2 separate regions of the Homo sapiens genome follow, and region 2 is linked to region 1. The links come from fine-mapping of genetic effects on gene expression. A gene starts in region 1. The other region holds a variant in brackets. All regions are shown on one strand. Distances are from middle to middle.

Region 1 (12,623 bases):
CCAGAGTCCCTTCAACTCCAAGCTGAGCGCAGTGGGCGGTGGCATGCACCGGCAATCCCAGCTACTCGGGAGGCTAAGGTGGGAGGATCGCTTGAGCCCAGGAGGTCGAGGCTGCAGTGAGCTATGATCACACCACTGCACTCCAGCCTGGGCAACAGAGCAAGACTGTCTAAAAAAAAAAAAAAAAATGTGCCTCAATTTTCTCATTTGCAAAATGGGGATATTCAAAGTCATCTACCTACTGGGGCTGTTGAGAGGATTAAATGAGAGAATGCAAAAACTATCGCATAAGGCTGGGCAAACAGTACTGATTATTAAATTAGTGATTATTGGGATTACAAAATCCTTCATTGAGAAAGCTGCCTGCCATTTATATCAGAAGTCTTGTTATGCTTCTCCTAGAATGTACTATACCCCGTAATTATTTTTTAAGTATTCTGAATTTAGTATCTATGAGCTCCATGCAGGTCGAGGCCATATTTATCTTGTTCCCTGCTGAGACCCCAGCAATCCAGAGATGTTTGTTGATTGCATAAATGAGCAACTTTTTTTGTCCACTTGTATACCTACTGTATGGGCTTTGAAGAGCAAGGGGTAAGTGAGAGGAACAGAGAGTGGTGACTAGTGGGATGGACCAGGATGAGACACTGTGGGTTAAGCTGGAAAGTCTAGCTGGTGGGCCCAAGAAGGAAGCCAGGACACTGGAGCTCCAGATTGTGGCTGGCCCTGGCCACAATGTCCCATCTCCGGAGCAAGGGGCTGTGCTCAGAAAGAAAGCACAAAAGGCAAGCCACGACACAGAGCCCGGAGGCAGTGGGAGGATTTTACTGACTGCACAACACACAACTTCCCCAGGCCCCCGAGGATGCCGGCGTCTCCTTCAGCCATCAGGCCCCAGCAGTGCCCCTTGCTCCTGTACCCACTCTGGACTCTCGCCGGTAGGGAGGGCTGGGCTGACAGTGCCACGAGTGGGAGAACAGGGGTCAGGGCAGGACACAGGGTTGGGATCAGGGCTGGGCACAGGATCAGGGTCTGGGCTGGGCACAGGATCAAGGTCTGGGCTGGGCACAAGGTCGGGACCAGCGTCGTGCCCAGCCTTTGGGTCAGAAGATTCCACAGGAGTAGGGCTGGGGGTGGATCTGGAGCCGGGGAGGGGTTTGGAGCTGGGATCCGGCAGAGTGCCCGGCCCAGAGCCAGGGTCAGGGTTGCGGCCAGAGCTGGTGCCAGGGCTGAGGCCCAAGCCAGAGCCGAGCACAGAAACAGCATCAGGACCCAGGAGGGAGACCTGCCCCGGCCTCATCATGGATGCAGGGCTTAGGCCAGGCCCGAGGCCCAGGCCGGCGGCCGCTGCTGCAGCTGCAGCGGCCGCGGCAGCTGCAGCAGCGGCTGCACCCTCATGCACCCGTTTGTGCTTGGTGAGGCTGGAGGCCTGGCCGAAGGCCTTCCCGCAGAGCTGACAGCGATAGGGACGCTCGCCCGAATGCACGTGCAGGTGCTGGAGCAGCGCTGAGCTCTGGCCGAAGGCCTTGGAGCAGTGCGGGCAGGCGTAGGGCCGCTCGCCCGTGTGGATGCGCAGGTGGTGTTGCAAGTTGGAGCTCTGCCCGAAGGCTTTGCCGCAGTGGGGGCAGCGGTAGGGGCGCTCGGCCGTGTGTGTGCGCTGGTGCTGCAGCAGCGCCGAGCTCTGCCCGAAGGCCTTGCCGCACTGCGGACACGGGTAGGGCCGCTCGCCCGTGTGCGTGCGCAGGTGTTTGAGCAGCGCAGAGCCCTGGCCGAAGCCCTTGGCGCACACCGGGCACTTGTGGGGCCGCGGGCCGCCGTGCGTGCGCAGGTGCTGTGCCAGGAGCGAGCCGTGCCCGAAGGCCTTGCCACACACCGGGCAGTGGTGCGGCTTCTCCCCGCTGTGGCTGCTGCGATGTTTCAGCAGCGTGGAGCGCCAGCCGAAGGCCTTGCCGCAGGCCGCGCACTGGTACGGCCGCGCCCCAGTGTGGATGCCACGGTGCTGAGCCAGGGTGGCACCGTGGCTGAAGGACTTCCCGCAGTCGGGGCAGCGGTACGGCTTCTCGCCGCTGTGCGTGCGGCGATGCTGGCTCAGCCCGGAGCTGCGGCGGAAGGCTCGCCCGCAATCCGGGCAGGAGAAGGGCCGGGGCGGGCTGGCGGGGGCGGGGAGCACCGCGGGGCTGGTGGCCAAGACCTGGGGGGTGGCAGTGAGGCCAGAGGAGATGGGGTCCACTTTTGGATCGCCGGGGCTGAGGGTGTCGCTGTTAGGATCGAGAATCAGGGGTACGGGGCCAATCACATCTGGATCGAGGTCGAAACTCGAAGACATGGGGTCGGGATCTTGGGGTTCCGAGCCCGGAGCTTCGGCGTCGGGGTCCAGATCCTCCGAGACGGGCTCCAGATCTTCATAGCTGGGGTCCACGTCTTCCGGGACAGTGTTGAGGTCTTCAGGATCAGGCTCTGGGTCTTCAGAAACCGGGTCCAGATCTTCAGGATTGGGGTCTAGGTCCTCGGAGTCAGAGTCGAGCTCTTCATAAACGGGTCTCAGGCCTTTGTGGCCTGGGTTCCTGACCAGGACTGAGCGCCGCATTTCAGGCGTGGATGTGCCCGCAGCTTCTGGGGCAAGACCTGCAAGGGCAAGGATAGAGGGTAGAGGGTAGGTGGGTTCTGTGGGAGCGGGGGTGTCTTTTGGAGTCTGGTTAGGGATGAGAGACGGGACCCGATTGTGCCCCCAGAACCCACTTCTTTTTTTTTTTTTTTTTTTTTTTGAGATGGGGTCTCGTTCTGTTGCCAAGGCTGGAGTGCAAAGGTACCATCTCGGCTCACTGCAACCTCCGCCTCCCAGGTTCAAACAACTCTCCTGCCTCAGCCTCCTGAGTAGCTGGGATTACAGGTGTCCACCACCATGCCTGGCTAATTTTTGTATTTTTAGTAGAGATGGGATTTCAGCATGTTAGACAGGCTGGTCTCAAACTCCTGACCTCAGGTGATCTGCATGCCTCAGCCTCCCAAAGTGCTGGGATTACAGGCGTGAGCCACCGCGCCCAGCCCCACTTCTTTATTTTTATTTTTTTGAGATGGGGTCTCACTCTGTCACCCAGGCTAGAGTGCAGTGATGTGATCATACATAGCTCACTGCAGACTGGAACTCCCGGGCTCAAGCGATCCTCCCACCTCGGCCTCTCAAGTAGCTGGAATTACAGATGCACCACCACACTCAGCTAACTTCAATTCTTTCTTTCTTTCTTTCTTTCTTTCTTTCTTTCTTTCTTTCTCTCTCTCTCTCTTTCTTTCTTTCTTTCCTTCCTTCCTTCTTTTCCTTCCTTCTCTCTCTTCTTCCTTCTTTCCTTCCTTCTTTCCTTTCTCTCTCCCTCTGTCTCTCTTTTTTGAGATGGGGTGTCGCTATGTTGCCCAGGCTGGTATCAAACTCCTGGACTCAAGCAAACCTCTGGCCTTGGCCTCAGAAAGTGCTGGGATTACAGGCATGAGCCACTGTGCCTGGCCAAACCCCACTCACTTCTGAGCATACACGTGGATCCTTCCCTTGTCTCTGACTGCAAGGAGATTTCTGACTTACCCCAGCCAGGGCAGGGAGTTGAGGGAACCAGGTGGGACATGGTAGGACCCTCCCCTCTCAGCCCCAAACCTGGACGGAGGTCATGAGACCCAGCACTAGAGGTTTCTAGTCCCCAACTCCATGGCTCTGCACCTCTCTCCAACCTGGGCTCCTCTTGTGGGAAGCTGGGGTCCTGTGGAGGAGACAGTCCTAGCTTCCTACCCCCTTGCTGGGCGTCCCCACATGGGGAACAGTGTGGGTGTCAGCGTTTCTGTGCTCCTGAGCACATGGCCTGAATTCTTGTCCCATACTTGGAGGCGGCAGATTAATTTAGGGGGCGAGTTCTGGTAGGGAGGCCCCCCTCCAGCAGCAGCATTCTGAGCTCTAGAACCCATGTCTGGGGGATAAGAATATGGAACAAATAACATCAGGTATCCCTCCCAAGTCACTGGGGAAAGACAAGAAGACTCTGGCTTGCCCTCTGGGGAAAAGAAAACCTGAATTCCAGAGCTCACAGCTCCAGGTGGGAGTCAGTGTCAAATCCTCTCTCTTAGACAGATCGGAAATGCCCTTTCCTACAGCCAGATAGTGAGCATGGTAGAGTGATATTTGGGACCCCTCCTGGTGAGGAGGGATGGGTAGGGAGACTCATGAACCCCATAGGCAGGATGGTGGGGACAGTTGTTAGTATACCTGTTTTATTTATTTATTTATGTTTGAGATGGGGTCTTGGTATGTTGCCCAGGCTGGACTCAAACTCCTGGGCTCAAATGATCCTCCCACCTCAGCCTCCCAAAGTATGGTGATTACAGGCATGAGCCACCATGCCCGGCCAGTATACCTGTTTTCCCTATTGGCTAGAAGGTCCTGCATTTTAACTTCTAGCTGGAGGATAGGCAAAAATAATACCTGGGGACCCTCTGAAGTTAATGGGGGAACGCCTGAGTCATCTCCTCCCATGGCTGGGACATGGCGGGTAGTGTCAGCACACTTGTAGCCCTTCCTGCAGGAAGGATCCTGAACTGAATTGCCAGCTTGTGGCTAGGGGCAGACTGGGAGGTAGAGGGACAAAAGCTGGAACCACTTCTGGGGAGCAATGGGAGCCCAGGATGACCTGCCGGGAGGATGCCTTGAGCTCCCCACCCCATGGCTGGGTGTTGAGGTGTCAACAATGAATGATCTGCTCCTGGGAGAAGCTGTGGGGGGACCTGTGGCTCCCCTTCTGGGGAAAGGAATACACTGAGCCACAACCCCATAGCTGGGAGTGTGCAGGCAAACAGAGCCGAGTTCCTGGACGGCGGTCCTCAACCCAGACCCCATAGTTGGAGAGTGGGGGAAACAAGACCTGGGACCCCTCCTGCATCAGGGGCAGAGGAACCCTTAGATTGCCTCCAGGGGAAGGAGCCCCCTGAATTCCCATCTCTTAACTGGAAGGTGGGAGGAGAAATCACTTAAGTCTTTCCTGAGTTCCCAGGGGTGAGGGCAGGTGGACCCCTGGATCACCTCCAGGGAAAGGAGCTTCCAGAACTGCAGACCCCAAGACTGGAGGGGCAAGGGAACAATCGCTGGGACCCTTCCTAGGGTCCTGGGGGAAGAGGGAACCCCTAGGTCCCCCTTTTGAGGACAGGGCCTCCTGAACTCCAGACCCCAGGCGGGAGGTGGGAACAATACCTCGAATCAGGAGGGGAGGGGGTCCTGGATCGCCTCCTAGGGAGGGGGCGTCCTGAGCTCCAGACCCCAGAGCTGGCGGGCGCCCCCCACCCCGCCCGATTGAAGGCTCCCAACCTCCTGGCCCTTTCCCCCCGGGCCCCAGCGGCGGGATGGGTGCGCTAGGCCGGAGCTGGCCGCAGAGTCCCCTCCCCATCGCTCCCGCGACCCCCGCTCGCCTGGGCCAGGGCCGGCGGCGCGCAGGGCGGGGGACGATTAGAGGTCGCCCCGGGCTGCGCCCCGCGCCTGGAGCTCCCCCGCCCGCCCGCCCCCCACCCAGCCCCCCGCCCCGGCCCCAGCCCGCTCGCAGGGACACTCACCCGGCGCCCCTCGCCCCTGCCCGGCCCGCCGCGCCCGCGCCGGCCGCCGGCTCCCCCCGGGCCCGCAGGAAGCCCCCCGCCCGCCAGCCCCGCCGGCGGCCCCCTCGGCCCAGCGGCCCCGCCAGGCGCTCCCGGGGAGCGAGAGGGGCCGGCCGAGGGCCGCAGCGGGAGCTGCTGGGACTTGTAGTTCGCCCGCGCCCGCCGCGGCCGTCGCCATCGCTGCCCCCGCCCCCCGGGCAGGCCTTTGTCCCCGGCCAGGCCACCCCGACCGCGCGGCCGCGCCTTTGTCTGCACCGTGCCCCGCCCGCACGCAGCCCTGGCCCCATCCCTAGTCTCCTCCTGGGCCTGTCTCAGTCCCTCTGTGGCCCTGGCCCTATCTCTTTCTCTCCATCCCTGTCCCTCTCTCTGTCTCTCTCCGTCCCTATCTCTCTATCTCTGTTCATTCTCTGTCTCTGTCCCTGTCTTCCCATCTCTGTTCCTTTCTCTGTGTCTCTGTCCCCATCTCTTTCTCTGTGTTCCAATCTCTTTGCCTCTGTTGCTTTCTCTGCCTCTATCTCTCTCTGTGTCTGTCTGTCTCTCTCTCTCTGTCTCTGCCTCCTGCCCATGTCTCTGACTCTATCTTTGTTCGTAAAACTCTACACATGTTGTTCTTGGAGACTTGCAGCGCACATAGGCACAGCCAAGCCTCTCAGCTCTGCAATCTAAAAACATGTCTATTTTTGCTTAACCTGGCCTTCCTCCAATTTTTCCTTTTTGCATGGTGAAACCCGTCACCCTTTCTGGGTAACACCCGCCAAGGCACAGATTTGGGATATTCCTCCTCTAGTGTTTTCAGCCTCCTACCCAGATGGTGGGTCACCGCTGTCCCTGGAGGCCTCCAAGTGCTAGATGTGAGTGATGGTTTCCGGAGAACCCTACGCCGGGCCGGGAAGGGCTCGGGGCAAACTTTCCTTGGAGACACAGATCCCCGCTGCCAGCCAGGAGAGAGAGTGGAAATCAGCTCCTGATGGCTGGGCCGCGATGTTCTCCACTAAATATAAACAATGGTCACAGAATATAAACAATGATGAGGCAAGGCCACTCTGTGACCATGTCTGAACCAAGATAGAGACATGGGCCCTGTGCAACCACAAAAATGAGTTCTCATCCCCCTCTCCAAGTGAACACAAATGACTGCCACTTCTTACCGACGACAATTCCAACCCAACTGCCATCCTCCCACCTCTGAGACAAAAATCACTGAAATACCTAGTCAGCAAAGCGCTCCCAGGTTCCCGACAATACCACCCTAGTAATTCTCTGTAAAACCACCCAGTATAGGCTGGGTGCGGTAGCTCATGCCTGTAATCCCAGCACTTTGGGAGGCCAAGGCGGGTGGATCTTGAGGTCAGGAGTTTGAGACCAGCCTGGCCAGCATGGTGAAATCCTGTCTCTACTAAAAATACAAAGATTAGCCAGGCGTGGTGGCAGGCACCTGTAATCCCAGCTACTCGGGAGGCTGAGGCAGGAGAATTGCTTGAACCCAGGAGGTGGAGGTTGCAGTGAGCCGAGATTGCACCACTGCACTCCAGCCTGGGCAACAGAGCGAGACTCCGTCTCAAAAACAAAAACAAAACAAAAAATGCAAACCACCAAGTACAAGCCCAAATTCTATAAGATACTCCTCTGTCCCCATGTCCTCCTTATAGAGACACCCTATGGTTCCTTCTTCCTTCCTGAACCTTCTAGATGTGTGTTAGACTCAGCCTGAGACCTGCTTTCCATCTTTCCGCAGAGCCCACAGCAGATCTGAGAGATTGGAGATAACTTCAATTGGATTATGCCCCTGGTTCCTTATCCTGACACTTCCTGGATGATCCCATTACAAATACATGTGATGACATCTGTTGTTTCTTTGGCTCAGAATCTAACAGTACTTTCTTTTCCTTTGTGGGGTCCCCTCCACTACTCCAGATGCACATGTGTCTAACACCCCTTCCCAGTCCCACGTGAGCTGGACTCTAATCAAAGGGCCCCTATCCCCTGGCCACAATAATTAGGTATGGGTTGAGAAGGTGACATTGGAGGTTCTCACTCTACTTCTGGGGTTATGAGCCACAGGGGGCTCATTCTGCCTGCAGCCACTTTCCCCAGTTGTTCAAAAGAACGGTCTGCAGACTGAGGACAATATGCACCAAGATGTACAAGTAAGAGTCAGAGAGATAGCTCTGGCTATATTTGTTGAGCTCCTGGATATAGCCGTACCTGAAGCCACAGAACTCATTCTTTCCTGTACCACAAACCAACAAATGTTCTGGGTGTTTGAGCTGGTTTTAGTGGATGTCTGTTCTTTGCATCCGTGACAGTCTTGACTAATTTAGGAATTATTACCTGGAAAGGAAAGAGTAATAAAAAAAATCTTTTAAAAAAAACCCTAAAATGTGGAACAAACTAAAGAAAGATGGGATAGAGAGCCAGGGTTGCCACATACATGGACTATAAAGTGAATAGGGCACCTTAAGTTATGCAATGCACGACCTGTCTAGATGTATACGGGGCTTTGTAAAAGAGCTTTCCCCCAGAAAACTAGAGTTATGTGGAAGAAAACCAGCGGATTAAATTGTTGCCTGGCCAGGCGCGGTGGCTGACACTTGTAATCCCAGCACTTTGGGAGGCTGAGATGGGCGGCTCACTGAGGTCAGGAGTTTGAGACCATCCTGGCCAACATGGTGAAACCCCATTTCTACTAAAAATACAAAAAGTAGCCGGGCATGGTGGAGGGCACCTGTAATCCTAGCCACTTGGGAGGCTGAGGCAGGAGAATCACTTGAACCCGGGAGGTGGAGATTGCAGTGAGCCGAGATCGTGCCACACTATACTCCAGCCTGGGCAACAGAGCGAGACTCCATCTCAAAAATAAATGAATAATAAATAAATAAATAAATAAATAGTTACTGATTTTTTCATGGAACTCTAACCATGTGTCTCCTAAGGACCAGAATATTGGAATATGGGGAAGCTTTCTTTCTCTTTTAGAGACAGGGTCTCATTGTGTCACCCAGGCTGGAGTGCAGTGGCACAATCATAGCTCACTGCAGCCTTGAACTCCTGGGTTCAAGCCAACCTCCCACCTCAACCTCTTGAGTAGCTGGGACTACAGATGAGTACCTGGGGACTCAGCCTCCTGAGTAGGTGGGACTACAGCCACCATGCCTGGCTATTATTACTATTTTATTTGTAGAGATGGAACCTCACTATGTTGCCCTGGCTGGTCTCAAACTCCTGACTTCAGCGATCCTCCCAACTTGCTGGGACTACAGGTGTGAGCTACCATGCCTGGCCTGGGGCAGCTTTCATGCAATCTTCAGCAAAGTCTTGCAAGAAAGACACAAGTTTCTGGAATGTGTTTCTTCTCAAAGCAGAGAATCATCTGCTTCATCTTGTGAGAACCTCAGAGCTGAATTTTCCGCCCCAGGCTAAAAGACGAGGCAGATGATGAGGTAGAAGATAAGACTGGGATTATGGGAGGACATCTGACACCCTAAACTACTCCCAAACGCTGAACATTCCTTGTCTGCAAAGCTGACAATCACTCTCACTGGGAAGAGCCTATTAGCTGAGCTAATCCACCCTCCAGATTGCAACCTGGGGCAGGACACAGATTTGTCCTTAGGAGACACAGTCAATTAAGGTTGGGCTCCAGCGCCGTGATCCTGGCTGGGTTTGGGGAGTTAAATAACCTAGGGGTGGGTTCCTGAGCTGGGCAAACCAATCACCATATTGTTTTCCTCTGGGCACAGTGATTGGTCCACAACTCGGTGAGTGATTCAAATGGGCCAATCAGCCTGTTCCTTAAATCCCAATATGGGGCCCGGTGTGGTGGCTCATGCTTGTAATCCCGGCACTTTGGGAGGCTGAGGCGGGCGGATCACTTGAGGTCAGGAGTTCAAGACCAGCCTGGCCAACATGGTGAAATCCCGTCTGTAATAAAAAATACAAAAATTAGCCGGGCATGGTGGTGCATGCCTGTAGTCCCAGCTACTTGGGAGGCTGATGCAGGAGAATTGCTTGAACCCAGGAGACGGAGGTTGCAGTGAGCCGAGATTGCATCACTGCACTCCAGCTTGGGTGACAGATGTCTCAAAACAAAAACCAAAATTCGATAGAGGGAGCGTGGTGGAAAGACCCCGCCCTTCTCTGGGGGATCTAATCATAATGATTGGAAAATACTACCAGCATCTTCCTTTGCTGTTGCTTGGAGGGACACAGGACTGAGAGATGGCCAGGGGGACAGAGTCCTGATGCAAAATGCCTGATATTAGACCCAATTCCAGACTCAGACCTTCTTGTTTCTGTGTGTGTGTGTGTGTCTGTGTGTGTGTGTGTGTGTGTGTGTGTGTTATTGTTGAGACAGAAACTTGCTTAGTTGCCAAGGCTGGAGTGGAATGATAATAGCTCACTGCAGACTCAATCTTCTTGGCTCAAACAATCCTCCCACCTCAGCCTCCCAAGTAGCTGAGACTACAGGTGCACACCACCATGCCCAGCTAATTTTCTAAATTATTTTTAGTGGAGATGAGATCTCACTATGTTGCCCAGGCTGGTCTTGAACTTCTGAGTTCAAGTGATCTTCCCGCCCCAGCCTCCCAAAGTGTTGGGATTGCAGGCATGAGCCACCACGTCTGGCCTGTCTTTTTCTAAATCAATAAAATTCCTTTTTTTCCTTGAGCCAGATGGAGCTTGGTTTCTGTCATTTGCAACAAAATGACGTAAGACATTAACACATTTAGTCACCATTCACTGAGCTGCAGCCAAGTGCCAGGCCCTCTTCTGAGCATGGTACATGCACCTCTTATTTAATTCCTGTAACCACTCTATGAAACGGGAACTATTGGCATTCCCATTTTACAGATAAGGAAAGTGAGGGTCAGGGTGTATTTTTGCCTAAGGACAGAAAGGCAGGTCTGAATTCTGCTGCTGGGTGACGCTTACCACTGAGAAAGTTGTTTTCCTTTAAAAATTAATCTTGGTGGGCTGGGCACGGTGGCTCATGCCTGTAATCCCAGCACTTTGGGAGGCCAAGGCGGGCAGATCACGAGGTCAGGAGTTCAAGACCAGCCGAGCAACATGGTGAAACTCCGTCTCTACTAAAAATACAAAGATTAGCCAGGCGCGGTGGTGGGCACCTGTAATCCCAGTTATTTGGGAGGCTGAGGCAGGAGAATTGCTTGAACCCAGGAGGCGGAGGTTGCAGTGAGCTGAGATTGCACCATTGCTTTCCAGGCTGGGTGACAAGAGCAAGACTCTGTTTCGAAAAAAAAAAAAATCTTGGTTTCTCACATTCAATTCTATATTTTTTTGTCTTAATCCCTAGGCTTTTGGGGGAAGGAAGGGAGTGAGTGGAATATAGGAGGGTTAGTCATAAATCCATAAAATACATCCAGAATAATCCTGATGTAGTGTCTTTCCCCAAGGATTAAACATTTCCAGTACAGTTTCTGTTCTTCCCTGGCAAGCCATCCTAGGGCTGGTCATTTTCATTGTCAGAAAGTGCTCCAAGTTGTGCTGAAATCCAGCTCTTTTTTAATTGCTATGGACTGTTTTCATCTAATGCCTAAGGCTGTTTTAAACCATTCCTGGGATGAGGCAGGAAGATAATCCTGCAACTACAGCTACATGGAACTTAAGACCAAATAAACATTCTGAGCTTCCCAGAAGGCAAGGCAAAAAGGGAAAGCCTTTCTGTTCTAGTAGTCTGGTCACTAGGCAGACCAGCTTCATCAGAAGAGGATGAGCTTATCGAAGTGGTTTCCAACCAGGGCAGTTCTCTCCCATCTGGAAGATATATGGCAATATTTGGGACATTTTGTTACAAGTGGGAGGGAGAGGTTCTACTGGCATTTAGTGGGTAGAGGACAAGGATGGCACTAAATATCCTACAATGCACAGGAGAGCCTCCAATAAAGAATGATCTGATCTAAGACACCGATAAATGATAAGCCCTGGTTTATCCTGAAGTAACTCAGAAGAGCATGATGCCAAATATCTTTAGAGGACATATTCACAGCTGGCAGATTCTTGCATGGTCGAGGTGGATACCATGTGTGGCCAAAAGGGTCATCTTGTCCCTACAGGATGCAAAGCTGGATTCCCTCCTGCCTTTCCTGCAGAAATGACAACCTGGCCTAGAAGAACTGATGCCAACCAGGAAAGGGCTCCTGGGCAGGGTCGAGATTGGCTCAACCTTATGGTTCATTGGATTGGGGTCCTTGGTCTTTGGAGGTTTGATTCTTGGTTCAGGAAAGCCATGTTCACTCCTTGAGACTGGATGTTCAACAGCCCACAGAGGCAGGCCCCGGCATGGTCACTAAAGCCTACCTTACCCGAGACAGACCTTACCCCAGACAGACCTTTCTCCTCACCATGCCCTGGACCTTAAAGGTCAGGCGCTGTCCAAGGTACTGGTCCTTGCTAAGCCCTGTCACTCACTTGCTGCAGAGCCCCATCACATCCTCCTCCTTTTGACCCTTTACATTTTGTCCCTGGCTGAACACTTACCCCCCTGGACCTCATAATATCTTGATGGCTTTTGTCAATTTGCCCCTGGACTCTGCTCTGACCTGGGGACCAGTTGCCCAGACAACCAGTGCCCCATTCGGTCTCTAGTCTCTGTCCATGATGGAAAAAACTGCTGGGTTATTCTCAGCTGTGTCCACTCTTCCATGTCCTCTATGGGCCACATCCAGTGTCCCCACCATTGAAAGCTTTTTCCCCACACCCTGGCCTTCCCCATTCTCATCCTCAGAAGGGAAGCTTCCCCTCCACGACCCCAGCCCCATGCACTGAAAAGTGTGTACATTTCTCATGTATAACAGTCTCATGGGAGAATTGCTACTTATCCCCATTTCATAGATGAGCAAATTGAGGCTCATAGGGGTTAAGTGACTTGCCCAAACTACCACCCAGGACGTGGAGGAGTCCGAGTTTGGATTATGCCCATCCAGCACCCCCACCCTTCCCCGGCCCCAGGGATCTGTGTTCTGAAGTACGCACGCCAGTATCTC
Region 2 (17,215 bases), 170 kb after region 1:
GTGGATGTGTAGAAGGATGGATGGATGGATGAATGAGTGGATAGACAGATGGGTGAATGGTTGGATAGGTAGATGGATGGATAGGTGGATGGATGAATGGTTGGACAGGTAGATGGATGGATAGGTGAATGGATGAATGAGTAGATAATTGGATGTATGAGTGGATGGGTGGATGGATAGGTAGATGGATGAATGGATGTTGAATGGATGGATGGTTGGATGGATGGAAGAGTGGATGGATGGATGGATGGATGGAAGAATGGATGGAAGAATGGGTGGATGGGTGGATGGATGGATGGATGGATGGATGGAAGGATGGATGGTTGAAGAGTTGGCTGATTGGATGGATGGATGGATGGATGGATGGAAGGATGGATGGTTGAAGAGTTGGCTGATTGGCTGGTTGGCTGGATAGATAGTTGGATGGCTGCATGGTTGCAGGGATGAATGGGTAGATAGTGGGATGGATAGGTTATATGGCAGTGTCCAGAGGCAGCGATGCATTACACTCAGGAGATGGCATTCTGAGGGGGTGAGGAAGCACATATAGAAGGAAGAGGGACAGAATTGTGGCAGAAGAGCCACACAGGAAGGAAACCAAGGTGAGCGAGGCACAGACTGCACTCATCAGACATGCACCAACAGATTGAGGAATGAATGAAAAAGCATGAGCAGAATGGGTAATGGGGGCAGTTGATGGGGAAGGGGCACTGGGACCCTTCACTGAAGGTCTCAGTTCTCCTCTCTCAAGCCTTACTTGCCACCCCAAGTCCAATCCCACCCTTTCCCCGGGAAATTCCTATTAGGTGCCCAGACAGCCAATTACAGAGCTTAAGAGGGTGACAAAAAGGCCATTCTTCCCTGCTTTCCAAGGCTGATGACAGGAGACACGCTGTAAGGGAGTCACTCTCCCAGGGGAGCTAAGCCAGAGGAGAAATGAGGCCTCAGGGAAAGGGGCTCTGTTGGGGATGCACCCTGCTCCCCACCCCCATGCTTCTCTCCAAGGAGCTGTCCATCAGCCTGGATTCAGTCCCAGGCAGCCTCCTCCACTATCAGCCCCCACAGCATCAGCCATAAAAGGGTTTAAGAGTCACTGTCAGTTCCCACAGCTCACTCCCCCACCTGCTAGCATATAAATCCCAGCCTCAACTGCCTGGGCAGGGAGACAGGGTGAGCTGAGCAGCCACAAGAGGGACAGAACTTCTTAGGGACCTGGGTCACAGGCAGACACTTTGGTAATCCATGGCAGATACACTGATTCTTCAGGATCGCCATCCACCGTTGGATCTAAAAACCCTCCCCAGGCACTCCAGCTGCCCACACTGGCAGCTTTGTTCATCAGTCAGAACACATCAAAGTGGCCTCACACAGAATCGGCTTCAAATCCCGGTTCCTCCAGCATATACTTGCTGTGTGACCTCGAGCAAGTCGCTCAACCTCTCTGAGCCCAACTTCATGAGAGCTCAACAGCCACCAACAACTTTTATCCTGATGATTACTCTTCTATTGCATCCCAGTTCCCAGGCCATCCTCTCTCCCCCTAACCCCAGCCCTTGGGTCCCCTGGCACTCCCATCTGCTCCCTGACCCCGGCACAGTGCCTGGTACACAATGAGCCTTCAAGGAGGGTCAGTGGAATGAATGAGCTAACGAATCTTCACATTGGCCCCCTCTTTCATGAAAACTCACTGCTACCTTGAACAAGTACGTGGCTCATGCAGGTGATGGTGGCTGTGACTAACAAGTCATGCAGGCTAAGCGATGCGGCTGGCCTGACCAGGAGGCGCTCATATGGGCAGTGGGGAGCCGGAGACAAGAAAACCCATGAGGCAATGAGTGCATGACCAGCTTTTATGATATTGTCCAGCACTGTCCTCTCATGCCCTACGTACCAGGACATCATCTGGTTATCTTCAAGGGCTAAACTCTTGAGCATTAAGAAGTGTCTCTTTGATGGCTGGGCGCGCTGGCTCACACCTATAATCCCAGCACTTTGGGAGGCCGAGGCAGGTGGATCACCTGCGGTCAGGAGTTCGAGACCAGCCTGATCAACATGGTGAAACCCCGTCTCTACGAAAAATATATAAATTAGCCAGGTGTGGTGGGGGGCACCTGTAATTCCAGCTACCCGAAAGGCTGAGGCAGGAGAATGAATTGAACCCTGGAGGCAGAGTTTGCAGTAATGAGCTGAGATCGCGCCACTGCACTCCAGCCTCGGCGACCGAATGAGACTCGGTCTCAGAAAAAAAAAAAAAAAGAAAAAGTGTCTCTCTTTGCAACAACAGTTCACTCAGGCCTTTGATGACATAATAAAGGCTGTTATCAGTCCCCAGAGAGGTCACCTGAGGCCTGGGGACCCTGGGGGTTGAGAGAGAGAGCACCAGCCGATGTGTGTGTGTATGTGTGTTGGAGGGAGGTGTGTGCCCCAGAGCCTCTAATCCCCCCGTTTTTGTTTCTGCCCTGAGCCTCCTGTCCTGCAGCTGGGCCAGAAACCAACAGCATCTGGGACCCCCAGGAGATCGCTGGGCTGCCCCTGAGGAGTTCAGCGGCTGAGTTAAGAGGGCGGACTTTCTTTCTGCAAATTTACCGCCCGAGACAAATTCCTGGCCAAGTCTTGGGAGACATTTCCTCTGAAACAAGAGGGACCCCACAAGTCTGTGATAATTCCAGGGGGCCCTGGAGAATCAGGGGTCATGGAATCCAGGGCCGATGCCAGCAGAGTCTGTACTGCAGCCAAGAAAAAGCTCGAAGGGGGATGGCGGGCAGGCTGTCCTGGGATCCCCACCTGGGTGGATGGCTCCCGCTGGTCACTGCCAGCTGCTTACCTCTCTTGAAGGCCCACCGCTTCAGCCACAGCTTGGAGAAGGCCGGCCAGGAGTGGTTGAGCACCGAGTCAGCCATGGGGGCCATGCGTGCGTGTGAGAGCTTGAGTGTGAGCTGGCCTGGGAATCCCTGCCAGGATGGGGCTGCCAGTAAGAGGGGCGGAGACTGCCTCCAAGGTCTGCCAGATACATCAGCTGATAGAAGCCTGGGGCTTCAGCAGGGGGGCTGGGGTTTCCAGCTCAGGGGCCCAGGGACCCCTGGTTTGAGGAGAAGCCAAGCCCTTTAGCACCCTCTGTCCCTTAAACCCAGTCTTACAGGCCTCTTACCCTGGCTGGACAAGACAATCTTAGGGAAATACAAGTACAAACTGGGTCCCTCGGGGAGCCTGGGTGTGCATGGATGTCTGAGTGTTTGTGTGTGTGTGCGTGCCATCGTCTTGGTGGGTTTGATGATGCATTTCCATGTTGTGTAGAGAGCACGTGCTTTTGGGTTTGTGATTCTGTGTTTCAGGGTGAGTTCTGAATATCAGCTTGTCAATGTGGGGGTGTATTTGATTATCTAGATAGTTTTAAAAGTGTCTCTGTGATTGTCTGTGTGTGTGTGTGTGTGTGTGTGTGTGTGTGTGTGTGTGTGTGTGAAGCCCATTGGTATCCGTGAGGTCAGATTTAACTACATGACTCATCTGTGTCTTGGGGAGATCTGTTTCTAGTATCTATGAGGTGGTTTTGGTGTCCGCCTGGGTTTCTGTGTTTCTACATATTTGTGTCTTCATCTGTTTCTGTTTTTTGTTTGTTGTTTGTTAGTTTTGAGATGGGTCTTGCTCTGTCACCCAGGCTGGAGTGCAATGGCGTGACCACAGCTCACTGCAGCCTCCAACTCCCGGTCTCAAGGGATCCTCCGGCCTCAGCCTCCTGAGTAGCTAGGACTACAGGTGTGTGCCACCACACTGGCTAAGTTTTGTATTTTTTGTAGAGCTGGGGTCTCACTATGTTGCCCAGGCTGGTCTCAAAACTCCCAGGCACAAGCGATCCTCCTGCCGCGGCCTCGCAAAGTGCTGGGATTGCAGGCATTGAGCCACATCACCTTTCTCTCTGTACCCAAGTGTGGGGTATGGTGTGTGTGTGTCAACGAGTGCTCATCCGTGCAGGTGCTGCCCCCTCGTGGTGGAAGCTCCTTTATCAGCGTCTTCACTCCTTGTGTCTGAAAAATCCCTGCTTCAAATCCTGGCTTCAAATCCCAGCTCCTCCAGCACGTACTTGCTGTGTGACTCCCTCCTTCAGTCTCCCAATTGTTTACATTACTTCCCAGCCCCAAATCACCCCCAGCCCCAAATCAGCCTCCCAAAGTGCTGGGATAACAGGCATGAGCCTGTTATTTTTTAACTTTTATTTTTGAGACAGGATCTCACTCTGTTACCCAGGCTGGAGTAGTATGATCTATAGCTCACTGCAGCCTCGAACCCGTTGGCTCAAGCAATCCTCTTGCCTCAGACTCCTGAGTAGCTGGGAATGTACATGCATGCTATCACACTTGGCTATTTTTTTTACTTTTTTCTTTTTTGTAGGGATGGGGTCTTCTATGTTGCCCAGGCTGGTCTCAAACTCCGAGCTTCAAGTGACCCTCCTGGCTCAGCCTCCAAAGTTTTGGGATTACAGGCGTGAGCCATGGCACCCAGCCAAATCTCACTTTAAAAATACAACAGGGATATCTATTTCTTTTCTTTTTCTTTCTTTCTTTTTTTTTTTTTTAGACAGAGTCTTGCTCTGTCACCCAGACTGGAGTGCAGTGGCTGATCTCAGCTCACTGCAACCTCCAACCTCCACCTCCTAGATTCAAGCGATTCTCCTGCCTCAGCCTCCCTAGTAGCTGGGATCACAGGCGTGCACCACCATGCCCAGCTAATTTTTGTATTTGTAGTAGAGGCAGGGTTTTGCCATGTTGGCCAGACTGGTCTTGAACTCCTAACCTCAGGTGATCCTCCCACCTCGGCCTCCGAAAGTACTGGGATTACAGGTGTGAGCCACCACACCTGGCTAAATCTCACTTTAAAAAAATACAACAGGGATATCTATTTCTTTTTCTTTTTCTTTTCTTTTCTTTTTCTTTTTTTTTTTTGAGATGGAGTTTCACTTTTGTTGCTGAGGCTGGAATGCAATGGCGCAATCTCGGCTCACTGCAACCTCTGCCTCCCGGGTTCAAGTGATTCTCCTGCCTCAGCCTCTCAAGTAGCTGGGATTACAGGCGCCCGCTACCATGCCTGGCTAATTTTTTGTATTCTTAGTAGAGATAGGGCTTTGCCATATTGGCCAGGCTGGTCTCGAACTCCTGACCTCAGGTGATCCAACCACCTCAGCCTCCCAAAGTGCTGAGATTACAGGCGTGAGCCACTGCACCCAGCTGGAATATGTATTTCTAATGATGGCAGGCTAGCTTATTGCAGATTTATTCTCCCACCAAGAACAAATAGAAAAGCTGGACAAAATTGGAAGAGTGAAAAACCACCCTTGCTTGGAAGGCATTGGCAGTCAGAGTTGGAAGAATCACGGCCCTGGAAAGAAAGGAAACCTAGGGGCCAGGCGCGGTGGCTCACACCTGTAATCCCAGCACTTTGGGAAGCCGAGGTGGGCAACTCACTGGAGGTCAGGAGTTCGAGACCAGCCTGGCCAACATGGTGAAACCCCGTCTGTACTAAAAATACAAAATTAGCCAGGCATGGTGGTGGATGCCTGTAATCCCAGCTATTCAGGAGGCTGAGGCAGGAGAATCGCTTGAACCTGGGAGGCAGAGGTTGTGATGAGCCAAGATCATGCCACTGCACTCCAGCTTGGATGACAGAGCAAGAGTCTATGTCAAAAAAAAAAAAAAAAAAAAAAGGCCAGGCACGGCGACTCACACCTGTAATTCCAGCACTTTGGGAGGCCGAGGTGGGCGGATCATGAGGTCAGGAGATCGAGACCATCCTGGCTAACACTGTGAAACCCCGTCTCTACTGAAAATACAAAAAAATAGCCGGGCGTGGTGGCAGGCACCTGTATTCCCAGCTACTCGGGAGGCTGAGGCAGGAGAATGGCGTGAACCTGGGAGGTGGAGCTTGCAGTGAGCCCAGATCATGCCACTGCACGACAGCCTGGGTGACAGAGTGAGATTCCATCTCAAAAAAAAAAAAAAAAAAAAGGAAACCTAGGAAAGTGAGAAGGACATAATGTAATGCTTTTCCCTCACAAACAAGTTGTTGATTTGAACACAGTTCTTGAGTGAGTGGGAGGCAGACCAGAAAAAGCCTGAGAACCTGAATGTAGCTCTTAGCAATCTTATGTTGGGGAAATAAACATTGGAATTCAGGGCCCAAAAAGAGGAGGTGATTGCCACCCCTAAAAGACTACACCCTAGGAGCAAGGAGGGACCAGACATAGACTAGCCCTCACCGAGAGCAAAATCCATCTTCAAGTCAGCATAGGTCACAATCAGATTAAAGTGATCTTTCCTTTCTCTAACTGCCTGCCCAAAGCAAAAATAAACGCTCTATGGAGGAAAATGACACCATAAAGAGACACAAATTATCCCTATAGTTTTTCACAAACAAGGCCTGGCATTTAATCAGACTACCAGGCATACTAGAAGACAGAACCTCATGACCAAAAAACAAGAAGAAACACAGACAATAGCAACAGCCCTACAGGAGATAAAGATGCTAGAATTAAAAATACAACAGGCCAGGTGCAGTGGCTTACATCTGTAATCCCAGCACTTTGGGAGGCCAAGGCAGGTGGATCACCTGAGGTCAGGAATTCAAGACCAGCCTGGGTAACATGGTGAAACCCTGTCTCTACTAAAACTACTAAAATTAGCCAGGTGTGGTGGTATGCATTTATAATCCCAGCTACTCAGGAGGCTGAGGCAGGAGAACTGCTTGAACCCAGGAGGTGGAGGTTGCAGTGAGCTGAGACTGTGCCACTGCACTCCAGCCTGGGCAACTCTGTCTCAGAAAAAAAAAAAAAAAAGAGAGAGAGAGAGAGGCAGAGAGAAAATACAGTAGCATATGATACAGGGATGGCTGGATGGGATCCTTAAGAAGTCCACTCTAGCTGGGCACAGTGGGTCATGCCTGTAATCCCAGCACTTTGGGAGGCTGAGGTGGGGGGATCACAAGGTCAGGAGATCAAGACCATCCTGGCTAACACGGTGAAACCCCGTCTCTATTAAAAATACATAAAATTAGCCGGGCATGGTGGCGGGCGCCTGTAGTCCCAGCTACTTGGGAGGCTGAGGCAGGAGAATGGCGTGAACCCGGGAGGTGGAGCTTGCAGTGAGCCGAGATCGTGCCACTGCACTCCAGCCTGGGCAATAGAACAAGACTCCATCTCAAAACAAACAAACAAACAAACAAACAAACAAACAAAAGAAGTCCACTCTAGCAGACTTGCTTACAGATTGAGATCCACCATGGGTATGACCCAGAACATTTCAGAAGATGGTGGGACTGCTCAGGAAGGAAGGCCTGGGGACAAGGTCAGTATGAAGGCATAGGTGAGGCTGACAATGTTTTCTGATCTATTACGTGCCAGACACTGCACTAAGATCTCACAGACCAAACTTCATAAAGGCTGAGCGAGGTGGTTCATGCCTGTAATCCCAGCACTTTGGGAGGCCAAGGCAGGCAGATCACCTGAGGTCAGGAGTTCAAGACCAGCCTAACCAATATGGTGAAACCCTGTCTCTACTAAAAATACAAAAATTAGCTGGGCATGGAGGCGTGTGCCTGTAATCCCAGCTACTTGGGAGGCTGAGGCAGGAGAATTGCTTAAACCCGAGAGGCGGAGGTTGCAGTGAGCTGAGATTGCACCAATGTACTCCAGCCTGGGCGATAGAGCAAGATTCTATCTCCAACACACACACACACACACACACACACACACACACACACACACACACACACACCCACCCCAAAAAACTCAACAGCCTTTTAACAGATGAGCAAACGAAAGCTCAGAGCAGTTAAGTCATTTGCCCAAGGCCACATAGAGGCCAGGGAACTGGGATTTGAACGCCCAGCTGTCCAACACAGTCACCATGTCATCTACAACAGTATCGAGCATCAACATATGCCCATCCCTTTGTCATGGGCTAGGGGATGCCCAGGGAGGCATGGGAGACAGCCCAGACCAGAAGCACCGACGTGTTTGCAGTTGCCATCTACTGGTTCTTCAAGGCATAATGAAAAGGCTGCCTCTACCAAGCAGCCCTCCCAGAGTGACTCCCAGTCACAGCAAGGGAGTTGAAATGTGGCTGATTATGAGGGCAACCCTTTCCTGACCTCCTTTGGTTGTCATGTTCTTTTCTCAGAACTGCAGGTGACCTGGCCTTGGAGCATCAGCCCCCAGCGTCACTTCCTAGCTCCATCCTCTCTGGCCCCAGCTGTCCACTCTAGCTCAATTCACTCCCTCCTGGTTCTGGGGCCACCTTCCTAGACCTCAGGGTGCCTGAAGCCTGCCCTGCAGCATTGGGGGCTGGCAGGAAACAACAGACTGGGTGTGCCCAGCAGAAAC[C/T]GCAGCCTTCCTCCCCCACCCCTCCCAGTCCCAGGCAGGCGGTGGTGCAGGAGGTCCCCCTAAGAAGGGGCCACGAGAGGAGACAGGGGATGTCTCCCAAGGGGGAGAACCCTCACCTGGAGGAAGGCTGCCTGGGTGGAGGGATGTGCTCTCTGGATGATTTCAGATCAGGACAAGACCCTTCTCAGGGCTGGTTGTCAGCCATCAGCCTTAAGTGTGAGTTTGTTTTGACAGTGGATTCAGAATCTGCAACAGGGAGGTTCTTGGGGGGCCCGGAATCTGCAGTTTAAGATGCAAAGGGCACCTGAGCCTTTGCCCCAGCTCCCCCATTCATTCTCTGTCTCCTGTCTCCACGCAGGAGGGCCTTGGCTACAAGGAGCTCTATCGTCCTTTCTTTGCTTTTCTTTTTCTTTTCTTTGTTTTGAGACTGAGAGGCTCACTTCAACCTCTACCTCCCGGGTTCAAGCCATTCTCCTGCCTCAGCCTCCCGAGTAGCTGAGATTACAGCTGCCCGCCACCACGCCTGGCTAATTTTTGTATTTTTAGTAGAGACGGGGTTTCACCATGTTGGCCGGGCTGGTCTCCAACTCTTGACCTCAAGTGATCCGCCCTCCTCAGCCTCCCAAAGTGCTAGGATTACAGGTGTGAGCCACCGCGCCCGGCCTCCACCCTCCTTTCTTACCTAGCAGCCCCTCAAGGATCCCCGTCCCCTGGGGTGACCTCTTATGACCACAGATCTCTGCACAATGAACGCAAGGGTCAAACAGCTTCCCCCACCCACTCAGGAAGCAAGTTGACTGCAAGGGGGAGAGAAACAGTGATGTATGTCTGCTCGCTGTCCCCCTAGACTTCCCAGACCCCACTGCCACTCTGTCCCGATGGGTCCATCTCTCTCCACTTCCCAGGATAAGTACTTACCAGATAGAGCTCAGTTCTTCAACCTGCAGGCACCTAGCCTGGCTAACAGCTCCTGCAGCTCCCATGACCTACGGCCAGCGTTTCGAGCTGGCCCAAGGGAACCGCTGGCTGGGTAGAGCCTGGGATAACCACAGAATGACCCAATAGCACCTCGACTTCCTCTTTCTCAACTGCCTGCCTGCATGCTTGCCACTCTGCTCCCAGCTGCAGGCCAATCTAGGGGCCTAAAAAGAGCCCAGAGGATGGGGGTTCTGGAGGCAGAGAGCCCTGCTCCCACCCCTCAGCCCTGCGCATGCAGGTGTCTTGAGGAGGAGGGGTGGGGAGCTGGAGGGAGGCCCAGCGTCCTCAACCCCCACCCCAGCAGCTTCCTGTGGAACCAACTGCTGAAGAGGAACAGGGTGTGGGGGCCTCACCCAGGCACATGGGTGTATAGACAGCAACATATAGGGACGTGCAGGTCATGTGTATCCGTAGAGACTCAGGCACCCAGACACACACCAGCATGGTGGGTACACACAGAGAGACAGAAACACACGTGGCTACATTGTTACATGGGTACCTGGAAGCTGGCGGAACAACATGGTGTGCTGGTAACGTTTAACAACCACCTCTCCGATTTGTAGCCATTGCCAATTCTCCTGGTGTAAATACCCCCAGCATGGCCGATTTCACCTACCAGTGTGATGTCACCGAGTGTGGAGTTGATAGGAAATGCTCAGATTTGGCTTTTTTTAGAAAACAACAACAACAACAACAAAAAACTGTTTATTTTATTTTTAGAGATAGGGTCTCATTCTGTCATCCAGTCTGGAGTGCAGTGGAAAAATCATAGCTCACTGCAGCCTCAATCTCTTGGGCTCAAGTGATCCTTCTGCTTCAGCCTCCTGAGTAGTTGGGATTACAGGCACATGCCACCATGCCTGGCTAAGTTTTTTGTTTACAGATAATTTATGTATAATTTATATATACTTTATATATAATTATATATGGATTATATATAGACTTATATATAATTTATATATAATTTTTTATATATAATTTTTCTTTTGAGACAGGCTCTCACTCTGTCATCCAGGCTGGAGTGCAGTGGGGGTGATTTTGGTTCATTGCAACCTCCATCCCCTGGGCTCAAGTGATCCTCCCACCTCCGCCTCCTGAGTAGCTGGGACCACAGGCACACATCACCACGCCTGGCTATTTTTTTTTGGTTTGTATTTTTAGTACAGACAGGGTCTCACCATATTGCCCAGGCTGGTCTCGAACTCCTGGGCTCAAGCAATCCTCCCACCTTGGCCTCCCAAAGTGCTGGGATTAGAGGCACGAGACATGGCGCCCAGCCTAAGTTAATTTTTTTTTTTTGTAGAGACAGGGATTTTATTATGTTTCCCAGGCTGGTCTCAAACTCCTGGGCTCAAGCAGTCCACCCGCCTTGGCCTCCCAAAGTGCTGGGATTACAGGCATGAGCCATGATGCTCCACTAAACTTGGCTCTTGGGCTGGCTTCAGCCTGTCACTGGAGTGAGTACTCTACAAAAAATTTAAAACTTCGCCACATTTGGTGGTGCCTGCCTGCAGTCCCAGCCGCTCCGGAGGCTGAGGCGGGGAGGCTCACTTGAGCCCAGGTGTTCAAAGCTGCAGTGACCTATAATTGTGCCACCGTACTCCAGCCTGGGTGACAGAGTGAAATCCCATTTTTTTTAAAGAAAGTTAAAATGGTAAATTTTACGTTATGCCTATTTTACCACATTTAAATTAATCACTTTAACATTATTTTTGCTGCATTTTCCATAATCTATGCTTTTTTTCCTTTTCCTTTTTTTTTTTTTTTTTTTTTTTTTTTTTTTTTTGAGATGGAGTCTTGCTCTGTTGCCCGGGCTGGAGTGCAGTGGTGCAATCTCAGCTCACTGCAACCTCTGCCTCCTGGGTTCAAGTGATTCTCCTGCCTCAGCCTCCCAGGTAGCTGGGATTATAGGTGACCCCCACCACACCAGGCTAATTTTTGTATTTTTAGTAGAGACGGGATTTCACTATGTTGGCCAGGCTGGTCTCGAACTCCGGACCTCAGAGGATTCGCCCACCTCAGCCTCCGGAAGTGCTGGGGTTACAGGTGTGAGCCACCACACCTGGCCTCATAATCTATGCTTTTGATGTTGCTTTTGTGTATGGAACCTGTTTGGTAGAAATACTGTATAATGGTTTGCTGCTGTCCATATCTTTCTGACTCACTGTTCGGTGGCATCACTTGAAATTGGCTGTGGCGAGAGTATTTACACCATGAGGACTGGCAATGCTATAAATCAGTGCTCTCCACTGGAGAGGTTCAACATTTACCAGCACACTACTGCACAGCGGTGCACACAGATGGTTTTGGGATACTGCACAATCACACTTCACACATGGTCACACATAGGCACAGGGACTCACAGAGGCAGATACAAGTGTGCACAACTACATGTAGGAGCCACCCCACACACAGAGGACACGAGACACATGCACGTGCACAACAGAGCACAACAGCGCTGCACAACAGGGCTGCAGGCTCCTGGAACACAAAGCTCAAGGACACACCCAGAGGACACACAAGGATACGCAAACACAGACACGTGTGCTCATGGGCACAACTTCACACAGGAGCATGCAGTGTCATGTGGACATGCAGAATGGGCATGCAGACACACATACACAACAAACACCCCGACACACATGTGGACTCACAGCCACAGTCACACAGAACACTCACACACACACACACACACACACACACACACGAGCAGATGCTGCTGGCCAGGCGCGGTGGCTCATGCCTATAATCTCAGCACTTTGGGAGGCCGAGGCAGGTGGATCACCTGAGGTCGGGAGTTTGAGTCCAGCCTGGCCAACGTGGTGAAAACCCATTTCTACTAAAAATATAAACATTAGCCGGGTGTGGTGGCATGTGCCTGTAATCCCAGCTACTCGGGAGGCTGAGGCAGGAGAATGGCTTGAACCCGGGAGGCGGAGGTTGCCGTGAGCCAAGATCATGCCACTGCACTCCAGCCTGGGCAACAGAGTGAGATTCCATCTTAAACAACAAACAAAAACAAAACAACAACAACAAAAAAGAGCAGATGCTGGCCACCTCTGAGAACACCTCTGGAGACACTGACTTGCACACCGGTTGCCACGGGACCACTCAAAATCACTAACACACAGACCCGGAAAGCCCTCACCACAAACACTCACTGGCCCATAGCGCCGCGCTTGTCCCTGGGGACACAGGTGGGGCCATCCCCAGAATCACACCAACGAGACACACACAGAACACAAGGAGACACAGATATACACAGATTTGCACACACCCATTCTGTAACCAGTTGATTATTTCTTTCAGGCAACATGCATTTATCGAGCACCTACTGTATGCCAGGCACTGTGGCAGGTGTGGGATCACGGTGAACAAGACAGACACAAACCCCCGCCCTGCAGGAGCTCCAGCTGGGGGAGGCAAACAGTGAATCAGGAAACACACCTAGGAGATAAATTCAGGTGCTGTGAATTGCCGCAACAGGAAGTAAACAGAGTGATGCGATAGAGTGGGTGGGGGAGGTTGATGCTTTAGCTGGGAAGGTCAGGGAAGGCCATTTGAGCTGAGATCTGTAAGCTCAGAAGAAGTCAGGCATATAAATCAATGTCTAGCTGGGCGTGGGGGCTCACGCCTGTAATCCCAGCACTTTGGGAGGCCGAGGCGGGTGGATCACGTGAGGTCAGTAGTTCAAGACCAGCCTGGCCAACATGGGGAAACCCCATCTCTTCTAAAAATACAAAAATTAGCCGGGTGTGGTGGCGTCTGTCTGTAATCCCAGCTACTCGGGACACAGAGGCAGGAGAATTACTTGAATCTGGGAGGCAGAGGCTGCAGTGAGCCGAGATTGTGCCACCCTACTCCCACCTGGGTGATAGAGTGAGAAAAAAAAAATCTAGGGGAAAGTTATTCTGGGTGGTAAAAACTGCCAGGGCAAAGGCTTGGAGGCAAGACTGAGCTTGGGGTGTTTGAGGAACAGAAGGAAGCAGGTGTGGCTGGAGCCAGGCGGAGGAGGACTGTCACAGGACCCAAAGTGCTGGGATTACAAATACGACACACCGCACCTGCCCTTTTCTCCCACTTTTGATAGAGACATAGCAGAGTGAAATATTTCTGTGCTGTAGAAATACTCTGTGCTGTTTGGGAGTACCGTCCACACTTCCTGTCCACGCTTCCCCACTCTCTGAACCCTGGCCTCTGTCCCCACTGCGCCCCGGACACCTGATATTGGCCTTAAGGCCGAATGCAGAGGCCACCCCTCGGCTGTGCACACCTGGCTCCCTTCCTTCCCCTCCACCACCCCGTCCAGCCCGCAGGGAGGGCCACCACCTGCTCTACCCTTTACTGCTTGCGTTGGTGGGAAAAGACACATAACATAACATTTACCCTTTTACCTTTTTTGTTTGTTTGTTTTTGAGACGGAGTCTCGCTCTGCTGCCCAGGCTGGAGTGCAGTGGCACGATCTCGGCTCACCGCAACCCCCGCCTCCCAGGTTCAAGCAATTCTCCTGCCTCAGCCTCCTGAGTAGCTGGGATTACAGGCACCTGCCACGACACCTGGCTAATGTTTTGTAGTTTTAGTAGAGATGGGGTTTCATCCTGTTGGCCAGGCTGGTCTCGAACTCCTGACCTCAAGAGATCTGCCCACCTCGGCCTCTCAAAGTACTGGGATTACAGGCGTGAGCCACCGTGCCTGGCCTTAACCATTTTTTTAAATTTAAAAAATGATTTTTAAAATGTGTATACATTTAAGGAGTATAAAGGCAACTTTGTTACATGGATAGATTGCGCAGCAGGAAGCCTGGGCTTTAGTGTAACCATCGCCCAAGTAATGTACATTGTAGCCATTAAGTCATTTCTCATCCCTTACCCCTCCCGCCCTTCCTCCTTTACCCCTTCCGGGTCTCCACTGTCTAAAATTCCGCACTATGACCACGTATACACATGATTTAATTCCCGCTTATAAGTGAGAACATGCGGTATTTGACTTTCTATTTCTGAACTGTTTTACTTAAGATGATAACAGCCTACAGTTCCATTCATATTGCTGCAAAAGACATGATTAATTCTATATTTTAACCCTTTGTTTTTGTTTGTTTGTTTGTTTGTTTTTGAGACAGGGTCTTTGTCACCTGGACTGGAGTGCAGTGGTGGGATCACAACTCACTGCAGCCTCAATGTCCCAGGCTCAAACAATCCTCCTGCCTCAGCCTCCCGAGTAGCTGGGACTACAGGTGCGTGCCACCATGAGCGGGTAATTTTTAATTATTTTTTGTACAGAAGGGGTCTCATTATGTTGCCCAGGCTGGTCTTAAACTCCTAGACTCAAGCAATCCTCCCATCTCAGCCTCCCAAAGTGTTGGGATTACAGGCATTAGCCACTGCCCCCAGCCCATTTTAACCTTTTTTTTTTTTTTTTTTTTTTTTTTGAGACAGAGTTTCTCTCTTGTTGCTCAGGCTGGGATGCAATGGCGCAATCTCTGCTCACTGCAACCTCCACCTCCTGGGTTCACGCGATTCCCCTGCCTCAGCCTCCCAAGTAGCTAGGATTACAGGCACCTGCCACCATGCCCAGCTAATTTTGTATTTTCAGTAGAGACAGGGTTTCACCATGTTGGCCAGGCTGGTCTCAAACTTCTGATGTCAGGTGATCCACCCACCTCGGCCTCCCAAAGTGCTGGGATTACGGGCGTGAGCCACCGCCCCTGGCCCTTGTTAACCATTTCTAAGTGCACAGTTCAGTGGCATTAAATGCATTCGCATTGTTGTGCAATCATCTCCAGCACTTTCTCATCTCCAAACTGAAACTCTGTCCCCATGAAACCCTCGCTCCCCATCTCCCTCCCCAGCCCCTGGCACCCACCATTCTGCTTTCTGTCTCTGTCAATCTAGTGACGGTAGGGACCTCCTATAAGTGGAATCACACAGGATTTGTCCTACTGTGCCTGGTTTCTTTCACCCAGCGTAATGTCTTTAAGGTCCATCCATGTCAGCAGGTGTCAGAATTTCCTTCTTTTTGCATCTGAATCATATTCCATTGGTGGATAATTGGGTTATTTCTATCTTTTGGTAATTGTGAATCATGCTGCTAAGAACATGGGTGTATAGGCTGGGCGTGGTGGCTCACGCCTGTAATCCCAGCACTTTGGGAGGCCAAGGCGGGTGGATCACGAGGTCAAGAGATCGAGACCATTCTGGCCAACATGGTGAAACCCCGTCTCTACTAAAAGTACAAAAATTAGCTGGGCGTGGTGGCGCTCGCCTGTAGTCCCAGCTACTTGGGAGGCTAAGGCAGGAGAATTGCTTGAACCCGGGAGGCGGAGGTTGCAGTGAGCCGAGATCGCGCCACTGCACTCCAGCCTGGGCGACAGAGCGAGACTCCATCTCAAAAAAAAAAAAAAAAGAACATGGGTGTATAAACATTTGTTTTGAGTCCCTGCTTTCAACATTTGGGTATGTACCGCTGGAGAGATTTTTTTTCCTTCCTTCCTTCCTTCCTTCCTTCCTTCCTTCTTCTTTTGTGGTGTTGTTTGTTTGTTTCTGAGACAGAGTCTCACTGTGTTTCCCAGGCTGGAGTGCAGTGGCGTGATCTCGGCTCACTGCACTGCAACCTCCGCATCCCGGGTTCAAGCGATTCTCCTGCCTCAGCCGCCCGAATAGCTGGGGATTATAGGCATGTGCCACCACACCTGGATAATTTTTGTATATTTAGTAGAAACAGAGTTTCACCATGTTGGCCAGACTGACCTCAAACTCCTGGCCTCAAGTGATCCACCTGCCTCGGCCTCCCAAAGTGCTGAGATTGCAGATGTGAGCCATCACGTCCAGCAGAATATATGCAATAGAACACAGGTCAGCAAAGTATAACCTTTAGGCCAAGTTTAACCCAATGCTTACTTTTGTAAATAAAGTTTTTATTCTTGTTTTCTGAGAGACAGGGTCTCATTCTGTCACCCAGGCTGGAGTACAGTGGTGTGATCATAGCTCACTGCAGCCTCGACTTCCCAAGCTCAAGCCAGCCTCCCTCCTCATCCTCTGGAGTAGCTGCGACCACAGGCATACAACACCGCGCCTTGCTATTTTATTTTATTTTTGTCCTTTTGAGACAGAGTCTTACCCTATTGCCCAGTCTGGAGTGCAATGGCGCAGTCTTGGCTCATTGCAACCTCCGGCTCCTGGGTTCAAGAGATTCTCCTGCCTCAGCCTCCCAAGTAGCTGGGATTACAGGCATGTACCACAATACGTGGCTAATTTTTTTTTTTTTTTGTATTTTTAGTGGAGATGGGGTTTCACCATGTTGGTCAGGCTGGTTTTGAACTCTTGACCTCAGGTGATCCACCCACCTCGGCTTCCCAAAGTGCTGGGATTACAGGCATGAGTCACCCTGCCCGGCCTTATTTTATTTTTTGTAGAGACAGGGTCTCGCTATATTGCTCAGGCTGATCTCAAACTCCTGGGCTCAAGTGATCCTCCCACCTCGGCCTCCCAAAATGCTGGAATTACAGGCATCAGCCGCCCCTGGAGGGTTTTAAGCAGGGGCCTGTGAACCTATTTTGCTTTCAGCTTTAAAAGATGCCTTGGCCAGGTGCGGTGGCTCATGCCTGTAATCCTAGCACTCTGGGAGGCCGAGGCAGGCGGATCGTGAGGTCAGGAGTTCAAGGCCAGCCTGGCCAATATGGTGAAACCCCGTCTCTATTAAAAATCCAAAAATTAGCCGGGCATGGTAGCACACGCCTGTAGTCTCAGCTACTCGGGAGACTGAGGCAGGAGAATCGCTTGAACCTGGGAGCCAGAGATAGCAGTGAGCCAAGATCGTACCACTGCAATCCAGCCTAGTGACTCCATCTCAAACAACAACAACAAAAAGCCT

What was found.
Region 2: its variant is fine-mapped to the expression of ZNF358 in whole blood (TOPMed, PIP above 0.99). The same link has a PIP of 0.9 or more in CD4 T cells and T cells.

Annotation. Positions count from the first base shown.
Region 1 is chr19:7,509,207-7,521,829 of GRCh38, reverse strand. ZNF358 (zinc finger protein 358) reads right to left here and starts at 5,727. Exons shown (of 2, transcript NM_018083.5): 1 at 5,581-5,727; 2 at 805-2,625. The coding sequence starts at 2,587. The coding sequence ends at 881. It overlaps LOC105372261 (a long non-coding RNA gene), which reads left to right. Exons shown (of 3, transcript XR_936294.3): 3 at 7,355-7,477. RefSeq lists a silencer at 5,646-5,895.
Region 2 is chr19:7,341,313-7,358,527 of GRCh38, reverse strand. It overlaps ARHGEF18 (Rho/Rac guanine nucleotide exchange factor 18), which reads right to left and starts at 9,591. Exons shown (of 29, transcript NM_001367823.1): 1 at 9,287-9,591. RefSeq lists a silencer at 3,946-4,065 and enhancers at 13,575-13,644, 17,117-17,186. The variant C/T (reference allele first, on the strand shown) is at 8,369.